Homo sapiens: one gene and its partner. The protein of the gene in region 1 purifies or fractionates together with the protein of each later gene. This does not show direct contact. Each region holds a gene or a part of one and is shown in the gene's direction. Other genes may lie near its edges.

The links. Proteins that work in one complex are often made in the same cells at the same time.
Region 2: the proteins of SH3GL3 (region 1) and ATIC purify together in Homo sapiens (affinity purification with mass spectrometry; one large-scale study listed by BioGRID and IntAct). This does not show direct contact.

Annotation. Positions count from the first base shown.
Region 1 is NC_000015.10:83,586,800-83,590,454, forward strand, and holds part of SH3GL3 (endophilin-A3), read left to right. Parts: exon of another isoform or gene 1-176; intron 177-183; coding exon 184-287; intron 288-558; exon of another isoform or gene 559-714; intron 715-1,862; coding exon 1,863-1,972; intron 1,973-3,655. UniProt on the Homo sapiens protein: Implicated in endocytosis. May recruit other proteins to membranes with high curvature.
Region 2 is NC_000002.12:215,346,429-215,350,083, forward strand, and holds the end of ATIC (bifunctional purine biosynthesis protein ATIC), read left to right. Parts: intron 1-330; coding exon 331-513; intron 514-2,665; coding exon 2,666-2,821; intron 2,822-3,107; coding exon 3,108-3,227; 3' UTR 3,228-3,336; downstream 3,337-3,655. UniProt on the Homo sapiens protein: Bifunctional enzyme that catalyzes the last two steps of purine biosynthesis.

The DNA of each region.
Region 1 (3,655 bases):
TTATAGCTCCATACCATGACCTGTATGATTATTATACAGAGCTCCTACATGAAATTAAATGAAATGGACCAAGGCAGACACTGGTCTTCCCTGCAAAGCTAGGTCTTTGCTGCTGGTCTCCTCTCTCTCTGGACATTACACAGGCTCGGGCCTCCATGGAATAATTTTGCACTTCTGCTGCAGGTAGAACAAGTCAGCCAGTTGGCTGTGTTCATAGAGGCAGCATTAGACTATCACAGACAGTCCACAGAGATTCTGCAGGAGCTGCAGAGCAAGCTACAGATGCGGTAAGCACCTCCACGTTTCTTACAAGCCAAGGGCTGCGGAGGTAACATCTATTGAAATCCATCTGTCTGTCTCTCCATCTCTCCATCTCCCCCTTCCCCTGCCTCATTCTGTTTTGAATTTTCTTTCACTGGCTTTCATGGTTGGATGTGGGATGGGACTGAGATAATAAGTACTGGCTTTGGCCAGTAGGATAGAACTGGGAAAAGGGACCTGGCAGCTTTTCTCCTTTTTCTTTTCATTAAATCCCTTTTTTTTGTGACCCGTGTTTAGGGCAACTAACCAAGTTGCTCTCCCACCTGGGACATCAACCCCTACAGAACTACCCTGGCTTCATTGCTGATTTGATGAGAGTTTAACTCCCCATTCACAAAGGGATGGAAAACATCCAGAGCTATGGAAAAAAGTGAGATGCTGTATGGAAAATATGTAAATATCTGTAAAAAAAAAAAAAAAAAAAAAAGGTAGTGCCTTCACTTCACCAGTACGAATTTCAGGATATGTTCATAATATTGACTAGTATTGAAAGAGTCAAAATATTGACAAATTTCAGGCTGTGTTCATAATATTGACAGGTATTGAAAGAGTCAAAAATATCTTCTGAACAATCAAAGAAAGGTTTCTGCATTCCTTGTGAATTTAATCATAGATGTAGTCTATACTTTTCTGAAAATTAGTAATATTATATATAGTCTGCATGGCAACCCTGTTTATTAAAATATTTTAAATTAGGTTTGATAACAGAAAATTGTTTTACACAGGATTATGGTAATGCATAAATTTGGAGGGATTTTTACTTAAATCAATGACGTAGTTACCTAGGGAAGACAAAGATGTGTTCAGTCCCTGAAGCATCCACTTCTGCAGGCAGATAGTTTACCTGTTACTGACAGGAGTGTATTTTCATAATTCTATCATAATCTATAAGAGTAGAGTGAGGGAGAAGGCAGCTCCCATCACTGGGTGCCGACCGCGTCCCAGGCACTTGCTGGATGCCTCAGAGACTTGATGAAGAAAATTAGTCTTTTGTTTTGTTTTGTTTTGTTTTGAGATGGAGTCGTGCTCTGTTGCCCAGGCTGGAGTGCAGTGGCGCCATCTTGGCTCACCGTAACCTCTGCTCACTGCAGCCTCCACCTTCCAGTTTCAAGAGATTCTCCTGCCTAAGCCTCCCGAGTAGCTGGGATTACAGGCGCCCACCACCATGCCTGGCTAATTTTTGTATTTTTCGTAGAGATGGGGTTTCACCATGTTGGCCAGGCTGATCTCGAACTCCTGACCTCAGGTGAGCACCTTGGCCTCCCAAAGTGCTGGGATTACAGGCATGAGCCACCATGGCTGGCCCAATTAGTCTTCTTCAAGATGAATTTCACTCACAAGCTCAAATAGGGAGTTGAAAAACTGCATTTGTGATATCACCTCCATCACTTCGGGCTACTCAAGAGTCAGTGTGTAAAAATCGTCCCTTTCATGACCACTGGCTGTAACCTAAGTTCCTGTGCTCAACAAGGCAGAGAGGATGTGTGTTTGGAAAGCTTTCAACATCAGATGTCTGGCTCATCTTACGATGTGTGTTACAGAATATCAGCTGCATCCAGTGTCCCCAGACGAGAATACAAGCCAAGGCCTGTGAAAAGGAGTTCTAGTGAGCTCAATGGAGTTTCCACCACCTCTGTAGTGAAGACGACAGGTAAGTTGACCATTCTAATATGCTAAGTGTGCCTTTAGTAAAGCACTTCTAGAAACACTTATTTACTGCTTGTTTCTGGGTCAGTGAATACACACAGACCCTGGATATCTTTCTTTGGTTGTTTGGTAAATTCCCTTTTCCCCTAAACGTGCCCCTTTTTTCTGTTCCCTGGGGAAGAATTCTATCACTTATATAATGTAGCATTTAGAACCTTGGCCATAGAACCATTATGGCTACATCATCCTTTATTTTTTTAACTCTTTGAAAATATTTTCTTAATTTATTTTTAAGTTGAAATTAGCATTTTTGAGCAACTGCTATATGCTAGATACTATCTTAAGTGCTGCATCGTTATTTTTTATTAAACAAGTGATGCAAATGTGTCTTTTAGTAAAATAATCAAACAGAAAAAAATTGGTAAAATAATCAAACAGAAAAAAAAATTTAATGGTATAAGTCATTCTATAGTCTCTTGTGATCACCTACACCATCGCAGTTCGCTTCCTAGATGTAGCCACTGTTAAAAAAATTTGGTATAACTATTATCATATCTATTGAGGTACATAAATATACACATAAACAGCGTTTTGGATTTTTTTCTGTTTTTTCTTTTTTTCTTTTTTGAGACAAAGTCTTGCTCTGTCACCCAGGCTGTAGTGCAATGGCATGAACATGGCTCGGTGCAGCCTTGACCTCCTGGGCTCAAGCAATCCTCCTGCCTCAGCCTTCCATGTAGCTGGAACTACAGGTGTATGTGACCCTGCCAGGCAAATTTTTTTATTTTTTGTAGAGACAAGGTCTTACTTTGTTGCCCAGGCTGGCCTGCAACTCCTGGGCTCAAGCAATCCTTCTGCCTCGGCCTTCTGAAGTGCTGGGATTATAGGCATGAGCCACTGTACCCAGCCTTTTTTCTGTTTTTTAAATGCGAGATTATACTAGGCATATTGTTTGGCAGTTTGCTTTTTAAAATGTATCACTGTTTCTTCGAGTTATTTCCATATCATGCATATAGATCTATCCCACTGTTTTAACAGCTTCATAGTTTTCTATTATACCATTTCCCTATTGGTGGACGTTAAGGTTTTTTCCAGTTATTTGCTACAGTGAGTATCCTTTATCACTGTGCTGGCTACATTACTATTAAAGCATGAACACCTGCTTCCCCACACCCATGCCAGTAGACTTCCATTTCTGCCAAGCACTCATGAGAAAAAAATGGTATCCAGTCTTAATTTGCATTTTCATGATTATTAGTGAGGGTGAACTTTCTTTTCTATATTTTAATTTGTATTTCCTTATGTCTGAATTGTCTGTTTATGTCATTTATTTGTGTTTTTTGGGAGTAGTTTGCTTTGTCTTATTGTTTTATAGGAGCTCTTTCCATATGAGGATATTAATAATTTTTTTCCTAGTTTGTCATTTATCTTTAAACTTTGTTTTTGGAGTGCCTTGTCCCTTTGTTGTTTTTGCTGTTGTTTGCTTTGTTTAGTTTTGCTTTGAGTATACAGAAGCTTTTATTTTGATGTAGTCAAATGTGTCTGTCTTTTGCTTGTGACTTTACATTTTGTGCCCTGTCATGATTACATTTTGTGCCCTGTTGTGAAAAGTCTTCCTATCCCTGAAGTTATTCTTCTACAGTTTTCTACTACTTTGAATAATCTTTTCTTAATATTTAGATCTTTA
Region 2 (3,655 bases), on another chromosome or scaffold:
GGGATTACAGGCATGAGCCAGTGCACCCAGCATTGGTCATTTATTTTAACTTTTTTTTTTTTTTGACCTCAAACCATCAATTTTATTGAATTGTAGATTATTAATAGTCATATGTCACATATCACTGAAGAGGTATAAATAGTAGTTATAAACAAACCTCTTACTCCACCCCTTTTAATGACTTAAAAATTATTTATATTTCTCTTATTTTGGCCTGATATGTTCTTCCACAAAACTAATAAATAGGTTTTGGAGAATGTGCACAAAAGATCCTTTTGAGAAGAAAGTGTCTTTGGAAGAGGTGTTCACTTTAATGTCTGTGTTCCTCAGGTTATCGGCATTGGAGCAGGACAGCAGTCTCGTATACACTGCACTCGCCTTGCAGGAGATAAGGCAAACTATTGGTGGCTTAGACACCATCCACAAGTGCTTTCGATGAAGTTTAAAACAGGAGTGAAGAGAGCAGAAATCTCCAATGCCATCGATCAATATGTGACTGGAACCATTGGCGAGGTGAAAGACTTGGCATTGGGTTCTCGGCTGTGTTAATATTCAGTTCAACCCTTTATGTGTAACAGATTTTAACTTCATCACCACACAGAGAAAAAGATACTTTCATTGAAATTCTATGTTGTCTAAAATTGATCATTGAAACTTCTTACACATTTCTCATGTTCTTCTGTCTCATGTAACTTTCTTCATTGTTTTTGACCCCTTTCTGAAACCACAGTCCTCTGTCTTTTTAAATTGCAGCCTTGGTGTAGGTTTGTATATTTGTACTTCCCCTGTTGATTATAAGCTTTTGATGACAAGGACTGCTTTTCACCTACGTCGAGGTGCCTGCCACCACGTCATGCATGGTGCTTGCTGTCCGATGGGTCTGTATTCAACATTAAATACAAATTGCCTGACGGCAGGTAACCCTGGGGTCTTCTCCCACCACATTTTCTACATGTGCCATTAATAACTTGATACATTTTGTTACATTTCATGTTCTTCTGTTTGAAGAAGGTATGTGGGAACATTACAATCGCAAACGTTAGGTAGGTAGCCCGCCAGAAGAAAAGATCTAGCCCAGTTTCTGGACATATTGCGTGCCTAACAAAATGCTGGATGGAAAACAGAAGGCTGCTAATCAAATACTAGATGGTCTTCTGAAGAGCCAATTGACTACCCTCAGTTTTTTATTCAGGAGCAGGAATCAACATAAGTGTCATTGAAGAGTGAGGCTGCAGAATGTAACTGAAGTCCTTAAGATATCTTTTTTTTTTCAACTTTGATACTTGGATTTTTCTGTTTGATATTACCAGTCAACCCCTGCTACTAGTCCTGAAAGAGTCCTGGAAGTGAACAAGAATAAAAGTATGTCAAAGCTAAAACATGACCCAAGATAGAAGCACCTTGTAAAATATGATTAACTGTCTGTGCCACTATGACACAATACTGCAGGCTGGGTAACTTATAAACCATAGACATTTATTTTTCATAGTTCTGGAGGCTGTGAAGTCCCAGATCAAGGTACTGGTGGGCTGAGAGTCTGGGGAGGCCTACCCTCTGCTTCCCAGATGGCACAGCCCTCTCTGGAAAGGACAAACACTGTGTCCTTACTTCACAGAAGGGGCATACTTCCCCTGAAGCCCTTTTATAAGTCTGTAATCCATTCATGAGGGCCCCACCCTCATTGCCCAATAACTTTCTAAAGGCCTTATACTTCTTAATACTGTTGCATTGGGGATTAAGTTTCAACATGAATTTTGGAGTGGATACACACACTCAAACCATAGCAAATATTATGAATTGTGTTTTGTCTACAACTGCCTTTACATTTAGAATAATTTTTGTATAAATGTAGTTAAAGAACTACTCATCTCTTTCCTAGATTGGATATAGAGGGTTTTTTTGAAAACCCTTGGAACACAATTTTTATTTGCTTTCTTTGCTACAGTAGTACCAAAGCAGTAGATTTAAATTAGACGGTAGTCTAATAGACATAAAGTAGTAGATACGAAGTAGATTTAAATTAGAGATTTTAAAACAGTGTATTTTTATGTAAGTAGCTTAGCCAAAAATAAAAAAAATTACATATGTACTTGGAATAAACTGATTTGGAAAGTAAAATGGTATTATCTTTATTTGGTAAACTTAGAATCACTTTTTTTCCTTAATGAAAATATTTCTAAAAGCATCAAAGAGATTCTAGATATGTGAACTTCCATGTAAATAATGGTCATTATTTACAATTAAGAAATCCTGGCCGGGCGCGGTGGCTCATGCCTATAATCCCAGCACTTTGGGAGGCCGAGGTGAGTGGATCATGAGGTCAAGAGATTGAGACCCTCCTGGCCAACATGGTGAAACTCTGTCTCCAAAAATACAAAAATTAGCTGGGTGTGGTGGTGTGCACTTGTGGTCCCAGGTACTTGGGAGGCTGAGGCAGGAGAATTGCTTGAACCTGGGAGGTGGAGGTTGCGGTGAGCCGAGATCGCACCACTGCACTCCAGCCTGGTGATAGTGCAAAACTCCGTCTAAAAAAAAAAAAATAATAATAATAATAAAAACAAGTCCTAAGAAAAATGCCCAGGTGCTTTCTGGCATGGTGATTTGCACCACATAGAACTAAAGACGATGTCAGACCAAGCTTCTTCCTTTCTCTCTCCCCGCATAGGATGAAGATTTGATAAAGTGGAAGGCACTGTTTGAGGAAGTCCCTGAGTTACTCACTGAGGCAGAGAAGAAGGAATGGGTTGAGAAACTGACTGAAGTTTCTATCAGCTCTGATGCCTTCTTCCCTTTCCGAGATAACGTAGACAGAGCTAAAAGGGTAAGTATGGAATTGGGTGCATTTGCTTAGAGTTGAGCATTATGTAGAAACTGTTTCAGAAATCCTGCTTTTGATTTTTAAAAGGTGTGGCAAAGTGATACAGATCAGTAATATTCAGAGAACCATTTGACTTCTCCATTGGGTGGATGGAGAACCCAAATCCTGTTGTTATTTTGCCTTTTTGACTGAGTGTATCTTTGTTAGCATATGCTTTTTAGAGGGGGATTTTGAGTTTTGCAGGTTTTTACATAAAATCGCGTTTTGAAAATCAATATACTTCCCCCAGAGTGGTGTGGCGTACATTGCGGCTCCCTCCGGTTCTGCTGCTGACAAAGTTGTGATTGAGGCCTGCGACGAACTGGGAATCATCCTCGCTCATACGAACCTTCGGCTCTTCCACCACTGATTTTACCACACACTGTTTTTTGGCTTGCTTATGTGTAGGTGAACAGTCACGCCTGAAACTTTGAGGATAACTTTTTAAAAAAATAAAACAGTATCTCTTAATCACTGGATCCATAGTTTTTGGTAGTTGTGTTTTATGTTAAAGATGCAGGCTCTTTGAACTGACACATGACACATAACACATAAATGAGGAATTCCAGAGCACCCCTGCCTACCGGAGCTCAGCCCATCCCACAGCACTGCCCGTGTGAAACATAAACATTAGCAGGAACCAAACGAGCTGAGCAGCCAGAGGACATGGCACAAGTCACTGTGTACAGGCCACACTTAAGGACTGGGAGTTATACCCATCTTAAAGGTGGAGTATTGATGTAAATTACCTAGAATTCTTCTGCATGGGAGTTGTATATTAAAGGTCCATGTTGCCTC